Linked DNA regions of Homo sapiens. The protein of the gene in region 1 purifies or fractionates together with the protein of each later gene. This does not show direct contact. Each region holds a gene or a part of one and is shown on either strand. Other genes may lie near its edges. The genes, in order: INPP5A and FLG.

Region 1 (3,815 bases):
GCGCAGACGTTACCCTCCCAGGAAACCTGTGATGAGGACTGGGGTGCACACGTGTGCTGAGGACACCCTCCAAGGCCGGCCCCGGGGCTCAGACAGGCAGGCTGGGGCCACATCTGAGCCTCCTGGTTTTAGTGCATTCACTCTGGCGCAGACAGACCATGGCTGAGCGTGTGGTCCCGAATTCCATCCTTGGAACAGAGGAAGTTTTTGTTATGAGAAAGAACTCCAGCCACAGCGGATTTGCACCTGCAGGTCTGTGTCTTGCGACACTTAAGGGCCAGGCTGGACGGGCCCCCACAGAGGTGGAGGAGTGGCCGGCTCTGGCCAAGCTGCCAGACACCACCAGGGAAACAGGTGCACCCACAGAGCTTCTGTGCCTGCTGAGGGGCTGGGAGTCGTAGCCTCAAGGAGCAGGCTCATTTTGTTGCTTTCTGCTTTAAGGTGGTTTTTCTTCTGGTTGGATGAGAAAAGTTAGTTGAGCCCCCCACGGATTGACTCAGCAGCTGAGTATGTAGAAACTGGCCTGGTCCTGGGGCCAGCATGTGAGCCATCCCCCACCACCCACAGGCCTCCCAGGAGGCCCTGCTCCCGCAGCAGAGCGGCCGCTGTCACCGAGGCAATGGCCAGATCAGGAATTCCAGGACCCCCGGGAGGGTGGGACACTGCGGCTCCACCGGTCCCTGTGTCTATGGAATCGGTGTCAGCGGACATCCCGTTCATGGTGGGATATGCCCGTAGGTGTCGGGCAGATGGGGGAGTTTCAATACCGGCTCCTTTAGGGGGTCTCAGTTTGGAGGAAAAAAGCCTTATTTCCTTGATGATGGTTTCATTCCTTAAGAACGCACTAGAATCTGCCCCTTAGTAGCTGCCTGTGGTGTTTCTAGATTCGGGGGCAACGTTGGCTTTGTGGTTCGTTTTTATTTTATTTAACTGTGAACGCCCTTTTACTCCCTGCATTGAGGTGAGACAGAGGACACGGCTCTCAAGGAGAGGAAGAAGTTGTTGGGATTCCCAGGCTTCATGAGGCCGGGCTGTCCCTGAGCCTGAGGCGACCTGCAGGGCTGACTGATTTCTATCCACTGAGGAAGGTTAGGATTCAACCTCAGCCTCACTTTGTGCAGCCGCCATGTTAGACATGCCGCCACAGACCACGGCACCGTTGTCCCTCCCGAAAGTGCTGTCCTGGGCCCGGCGGTGCAGCCCCTGGCAGCTTGCGAGGCCCGGGCTGCCCGCCTCTCCCGTGGCACAGGCTTGGGGACAGGGTGTGCCCGAGCCAGTGGCTGGCTCAGGAGGCCACAGAGGTGCATTTGCCTCTGCTCCAGGCGAGCTTGGGCGGTTCTGGGAGGGCCTGGGGACACAGGGTGACGTGGTGGGAGGGCGCTATGGCCTGTCAGCCTTTGATCTTGGGGCAGGTGGTTCTGCCTGCCTGCCACAGAGGACGGGGTCCTCCATCCCCTCGCGAGCTCCTGGAGGCCACGATGCTCCTGGGGACACCTCCCCTTTGGGAAGGTGAGGGCTGGGGCTGTCCCTGTTGCCAGGCTCTGGCCCTAGGAAGGAGGTTTGTGGCCCCAGTGACTAACGGATTCCCTTGTCTGCCTGGGAGTGTGTTGACCACCAGGGAGTAACCAGGGAACTGGACTCTCCGTGTGGCAGGAGGGGCATCTCCCAGCCTTCGAGCCTGATTGCTTTTCCAGTGCCTGAGCTGCACCCCTGGGATCCCAGCTTTCCCTTCCCGAGTCCGGGCAGCATCTGTGCTGGGCCCTGCTGGGACCTTCCTCCTCATGTGAGGCATGTCACGGCTGGCACTGGCCCCAGCCCGGGCCTCGGGTGTGGTGGGCCCACAGTGTGTCAGACCCTGGGTGTGGTGGGCCTCGGGCGTGGTGGCCTCGGGTGTGGTGGCCCTGGGCATGGTGGGCTTCAGGCATGGTGGCCTCGGGTGTGGTGGGCCCAGGCGTGGTGGGCTTCGGGCGTGGTGGGCCTCAGCTGTGGTGGCCTTGGGTATGGTGGGCCCGGGCATGGTGGGCTTCTGGCGTGGTGGCCTCGGGTGTGGTGGCCCTGGGTATGGTGGGCCTGGGCATGGTGGGCCCGGCCATGGTGGCCTCGGGTGTGGTGGGCCCGGGTGTGGTGGCCCCCGAGGAGGAGTGTGTCCTGGAGAACAGGCGGGTGCGTGAGAGCTCCCAGCTCAGCCACAAGAGCAACACATGCTGCCCACCCAGCCTCGCCTACCCTGCCTACCCTGAGACGCCTTGGCAGGACCTAGAAGCCAAGCCTGGGGTAGGGCCTCGGCGTTGCCTGCACGTGTGCCCAGATGGCTTCTTCGGAGCCCTGAGTGGGCCCCCGAGGCTGTGTGTCCACTTGGCCCAGGCAGGGCGCTCTGGACACCTGGTGATTCCAGGTAGAGAGTGGAGCCCAGGCGCCTGCTGGCTGTGCGTGCGGTGCCTGGAGGCTACAGCCAGCGAGGATTCATTTCAGAGAGTACAGAACAACTTTTTGTTTTTATAAACCAGCTCTTGAAGGTTGCATTTAAAAACTTGGGCTGACAGGGTCTGAGAGGATGTGTTTGCCTTTAGTAGAGTTTTGGATTTTGTGGCAGAGTGTCCGGGACAGTTGAGGGGGTGATGGGACAGATTCAGCTCCCAACGTGAGACCAACTGCACAGGTGCACATTGGGGCGACTCTGCCTGCCATGCAGCTCCGTGCACATCCGAATGACTGCGTTATTTCCTTGCACAGAAAACAGCCTTTCTCCTGGGCTGACACCTGTGCCCTGGGCCTGTGGACGCCCTGTCCAGGCAGCATGCCTCCTTGGTTATCCAAACAGTAAGAAGAAATGCAGGAACTTCGTGATCCACACGCGTGTGGATGACCCTGGCACACAGCGTTCCCGTTAAATTCTAAGTGTGGATAAGACGGCACACCGGACCACTCTTTCCAGAGCCTCTCCTTGCGGCTGCTAATAATGAAATACATCTTAGATGGCTTTTTAAACATAGCATTTAGGGTATTTGTTTCTCCTTTCAAAAGAGAAGAATCCCTTCCCAAAGTAGGCGAGCCGGAAAGGCCCAGCCTGGCCACTTTCCGCATGAGTGGCCACGACTTTGCTGGATTGAAAGGCAAAGGGAACAGGCCAGCTTTGGCCCCTTCAGCCTGGCCTGATCACTCCTTTACAGCCTGTGAATGAGGCAGCTCTGGGGAGGGGTTTGGGGTGGCCGGCCCCTTCCTGGGCTCTGGGGTCCATCAGATGTTTGTCCTTTGGGAGCCTGCCTGAAGTGCTGAGATAAAGCAGTTTTTAAACAGTTTCCCGCAGATGCCTTTTGGGAGACAGAGCCGTGAATTTCCTGAGCCGCGTCCTGGGATGGCTACAATGGCCGTCTGCCTGCCAAGCCTTCTCCCATTCAGGGAAAGCAGCTTAAGCCACTTAAGCCCATTAGCATCTGGATGGGGCCGGACCTCCTTGGGACACAGGGGTGGGCAGGGTGGCCCCGCTGTGTGGCTGTTTGGGTGCTTGTTCTAATCCTCACGCTGTTTGAAGGCTCCAGACTGATTTGTGACACATGAGTCCAAAAGCCACTTTGGGGGGCTTGACCCCATCAGCCGGTCTGTGCTCGGAATGTCAATGGCCTGCCCTGGAGTGTGCTTTGGGGATAGCGGGTGGCCGCCTCCTGGCCCAGGCTGAGACACTGCACACCAGCCACCAGGAGGTAGACGCTGCATCTTGGCAAGAGGCGGGTCGGGCTGCCGAAGGGCTCCAGAGTTCCTCTCAGTTCCTGCTGAGCGCATGCCCGGAACCTGCACAGGAAGGCCGGGCACCGGCC
Region 2 (3,815 bases), on another chromosome or scaffold:
ACAAAAGTAGGCAGGCACCTCATCTATCTTGTTCACTACTATATCTCCAAAGCATGAAACAGTGCCTAACCCTTTAGTAGCTGTTCAATACTTGTTAAATAAATGAAGGAATGAATGAATGAATGTAAGCTCTGAGAAAAGGTTATGCCTAGAGGTATCAATTTTGAAGTCATCAGATAGATGGTATCTGAAGTGATGGGATCCAATGACATTGCCTCAGAAAGGAGTGTAGATTTTTTTTAAAAAGAAGGTCTAAGACACAGCCACAGATATTTCCAACCTTTTGAGATTGAGTAGAAGAGAGGTTAGTAAAGAATACTGAGAGACAACAGCATTCAATGGGTAAGAGGAATATCAGAAGAATATGGTGTCATGAGATCCAAGAAAAAAAGACTCCATTAAGAAAGGAATGGTTAATTCTATTTCACATACCAAGAGATTAAGTAAGATGATGATGATGAGGTAATGATGGAGAAATGACACTGTATTCAACAACTTGGAGATCACAGATGATTTGACACAAAGCAGTTTCAGTAGAGTTTGGTGATAGAAAATTGAGAGAAGCAGGTTAAAAAGAAAGTGGGTGGTAAACATTTTAAGAGAGAAAGCAGAGAAAACTTCTCCAAGACTCCTGTGAAATGAAGCAGTTAATTAGGCTAGTAAGATGTTAGGAGAAATGTTGGGGGAGGGTGGAATAATGGTTCGAGGGAAGGGTTTTAAGATGGAAGATACTCCAGCATGTTTCTGTGGTGATAAAAATAAACTACTAGAGAAGGAAACAGAGTGAAGTAGGGAAAACTGACTAATTTTAGGGATATTTTGAAAGTAGGATCAATAAAACATGTTGATGGAATAGATATTGGATGTAAGAAAAGGAGAATCAACTAATTTTCAGGTTTACGACTTGAGCCATCAGGAAGACAGGAATAACTGATGAGGATAACGGGTGTGCGACATTTTTAGGGTAAAGCAGTTGAAAATCAAGACTTCTGTTTTGAACATAATAGATTTAAGATCTCTACAAGACTCAAGTAGAAATACTGGATAGGCATTTAGACATACACATCTCAAGTTTAGGGGACAGTCAGTGACTGGGGGTATAAACTTGTGAGTTGCCAACTTATTTAAAAAGTTATATAGAACTAGATGAGATGACCCGAGGGAGTATAATAAAGAAAAGAAGCTAAGGAGTGAATCATAGGGCATAGCAACATTAGGAGCTGAACGAGGAGGCTAAGAAAAAAGTGGCCATTGAGGTTGGAGGAGAAACTTGAGAGTGCCAGGTCTCTGAAGAAGGATGAAGCCAGTTGCATCAAATGCTGCTGATATGTCAAGTAATATGTAAAATAAAAATGGATATGTGGATTTGGAAATATGAAGGATATTTTTTACTTGGTGAGAGTTTTAATACATTTTTTAGAAAGAAAAATACCTTGAGTAAAGGAAAACAAGAATGAGGAAGTAAAGACAGAATGTATAGGCATATCTTTTGAGGAATTTTGCTATAAAAGGGAACAGATAAATCAGATGGTACCTAAAGGCAGATGTGAGATTGAGGGTGGGGTGGAGATGGGAAGGTAAGTGTTAGATAGATATTTCAGCATGAATATATATTGAAGGGAATGATCCAGTAGACAAAGAAGAATTAATGATGCATATGAGAAAGTAGGCAACTGCAAAAGCAAAGTGTTTGGGTAGGCAAGAGAGAGTGGGGCTCAGTGCCAAAGTAAAGGACAGGAGGAGCACAGACTGTTTATTACCCTAAATAAAGTGAAGGCAAGGTATATGGATAGAAATGTAGTAGGTTGGGAGATCAGATATTAGGAGAATGAGGAAACTCTTTTCCAATGGCTTCCAAGTTCTCAGGAATCAAAATCAAGGACATCAGAGATAAAGGAAAGAAGAAGTTGTTGAAGCTTTGGCCAGTGGGTATAAGAAAAAGTAGGACAAGTGGATGTATCCAAGGGGCATTTGGGGAGATTAAACATAATGTCTAACCAAGGTAAAAAGGGAAGTGAGTACATAAAGCAGTAAATAGAGAGGTTAAAGAATTATTGACATCAGCGTACAAGAGAAGGTCAAAGAGTGAGATCCTTCAGAAAGAGATTTTGCATATGTTGCAAGTAACGATAAGTTCAGAGAATACAATATCATCATAAATAAGACTGGCTGAAAATAATCATAAACTTTAAAATGCATTTGTAAGAAGCATATACCTGTAATTTTTTAAATTCAATCTTTACAATCTATATTTTAACTGGCAAGATATGGTCTATTTTACATGTATTGTAATTAGTAATAATAAAATTATTTGTAATTCTATTAATTTATTTTATGCTTTCTGTTTACCCTTCTTTTTCTATGCTTCTTATTTTCTTCTTTCCTGGCTTCTGTTGAATTATTAAAGTTTCTTAATTCCCCTTTTTCATCTCTAATGGTTTAGAAATTATAAATTCTATTATTTTAGTAAATACCCATAAACTTACCCAAATACATATATCACTTAACCACAGCAAAATTCATTAATATCTAATTCCTCTTACCAAACAAACCAAGGTCCAAAAATGTTTTAGTTGTGACTGCTACAGTAATCTCCTTCACATTGTTTTCTACAGTATTTTAGTTTCACCTGGTTTTGTAAGTCCTAATAAAGTTATAATTCTTTATATAATACACACTTAGATTTATTGACATGCTTACTAATTTCTTCACCAATGAGATAAACTGAACATTCCTTAAATGGCAAAATGAAACCCAGTCAGAAAAACCTTTCTCTTTAAATATTGAAGAGCTATTAAATCCATCCTATACAATGAAATATTATAAACTTCATGAAATGTTTAAAAAACAAATAAAAAATTGAATGAACTTTCATTGAGTATCTTGTCATATGGCTAACTGGCTTTCAGAGAATTGTGTCTTAGCAAATTAATCATTTATTAAGTTAGCTTTTGGGGAAGTAATTTTCAGTAAATTTGTATAAGTAAATTTTACTGCTTAAAACCAGTCAGCCTTTCTAAATTCTTGTTGCTAGCAATGGCAAGATCAGCAAGAGGGATGATCTTACCTAGAGCACACTGAGGTCTGTGAGACTACTAAGTCCAGCTGTAAGTGGGCACAAGGCCAAAAAATGGGCAATTTTATTTAAGTCAGGAAAACTCTATTCATTTGTTTTATGTAGATGGTAGAGAAAAGTTTCTCATGTCCATCTTCCATTCTTAAAGATGGATTACTTAGAGGAAAATGTAGGTTTAAAATGTGGAAAATGATTGTAATAATATAACCTAGAAAAAAAGATGTATAAAAAAGTGCATTTTCATTTCTTCTTTCTAGGTTCACATTTATTGCCAAAAGATGTCTACTCTCCTGGAAAACATCTTTGCCATAATTAATCTTTTCAAGCAATATTCAAAAAAAGATAAAAACACTGACACATTGAGTAAAAAAGAGCTGAAGGAACTTCTGGAAAAGGAATTTCGGCAAATCCTGAAGGTAAGAGTCTCTGACAAGACCAAAGATAGAGCATTTGTTTTTCTCATCAATAATCTAAGCAAGGGTTATTTTGAGCTCTTTGTGAACTATTTCTCTTAAAATAGGAAAAGAGTTAATCTTGTCTCAAAAGAGATAGATTTTATTTTCTTCCCCTATACCTGGATGTATATTATAAACATAAAGACACCCTCAGAGAAAAAAATATAAATATTTAAAAATTAATGTAAATTAGTTCTTAGTATTTTGGTATTTATAATATTCTCCCAAACATCAACATTACTAAGGGGATTTTTGTTAAAGACAACTAAGTAATGAATTATATA

The links.
Region 2: the proteins of INPP5A (region 1) and FLG purify together in Homo sapiens (affinity purification with mass spectrometry; one large-scale study listed by BioGRID and IntAct). This does not show direct contact.

What each region holds. Positions count from the first base shown.
Region 1 is NC_000010.11:132,743,763-132,747,577, forward strand, and holds part of INPP5A (inositol polyphosphate-5-phosphatase A), read left to right. Parts: intron 1-3,815. UniProt on the Homo sapiens protein: Phosphatase that specifically hydrolyzes the 5-phosphate of inositol 1,4,5-trisphosphate to inositol 1,4-bisphosphate, and inositol 1,3,4,5-tetrasphosphate to inositol 1,3,4-trisphosphate. Plays a crucial role in the survival of cerebellar Purkinje cells.
Region 2 is NC_000001.11:152,314,996-152,318,810, reverse strand, and holds part of FLG (filaggrin), read left to right. Parts: intron 1-3,333; 5' UTR 3,334-3,354; coding exon 3,355-3,492; intron 3,493-3,815.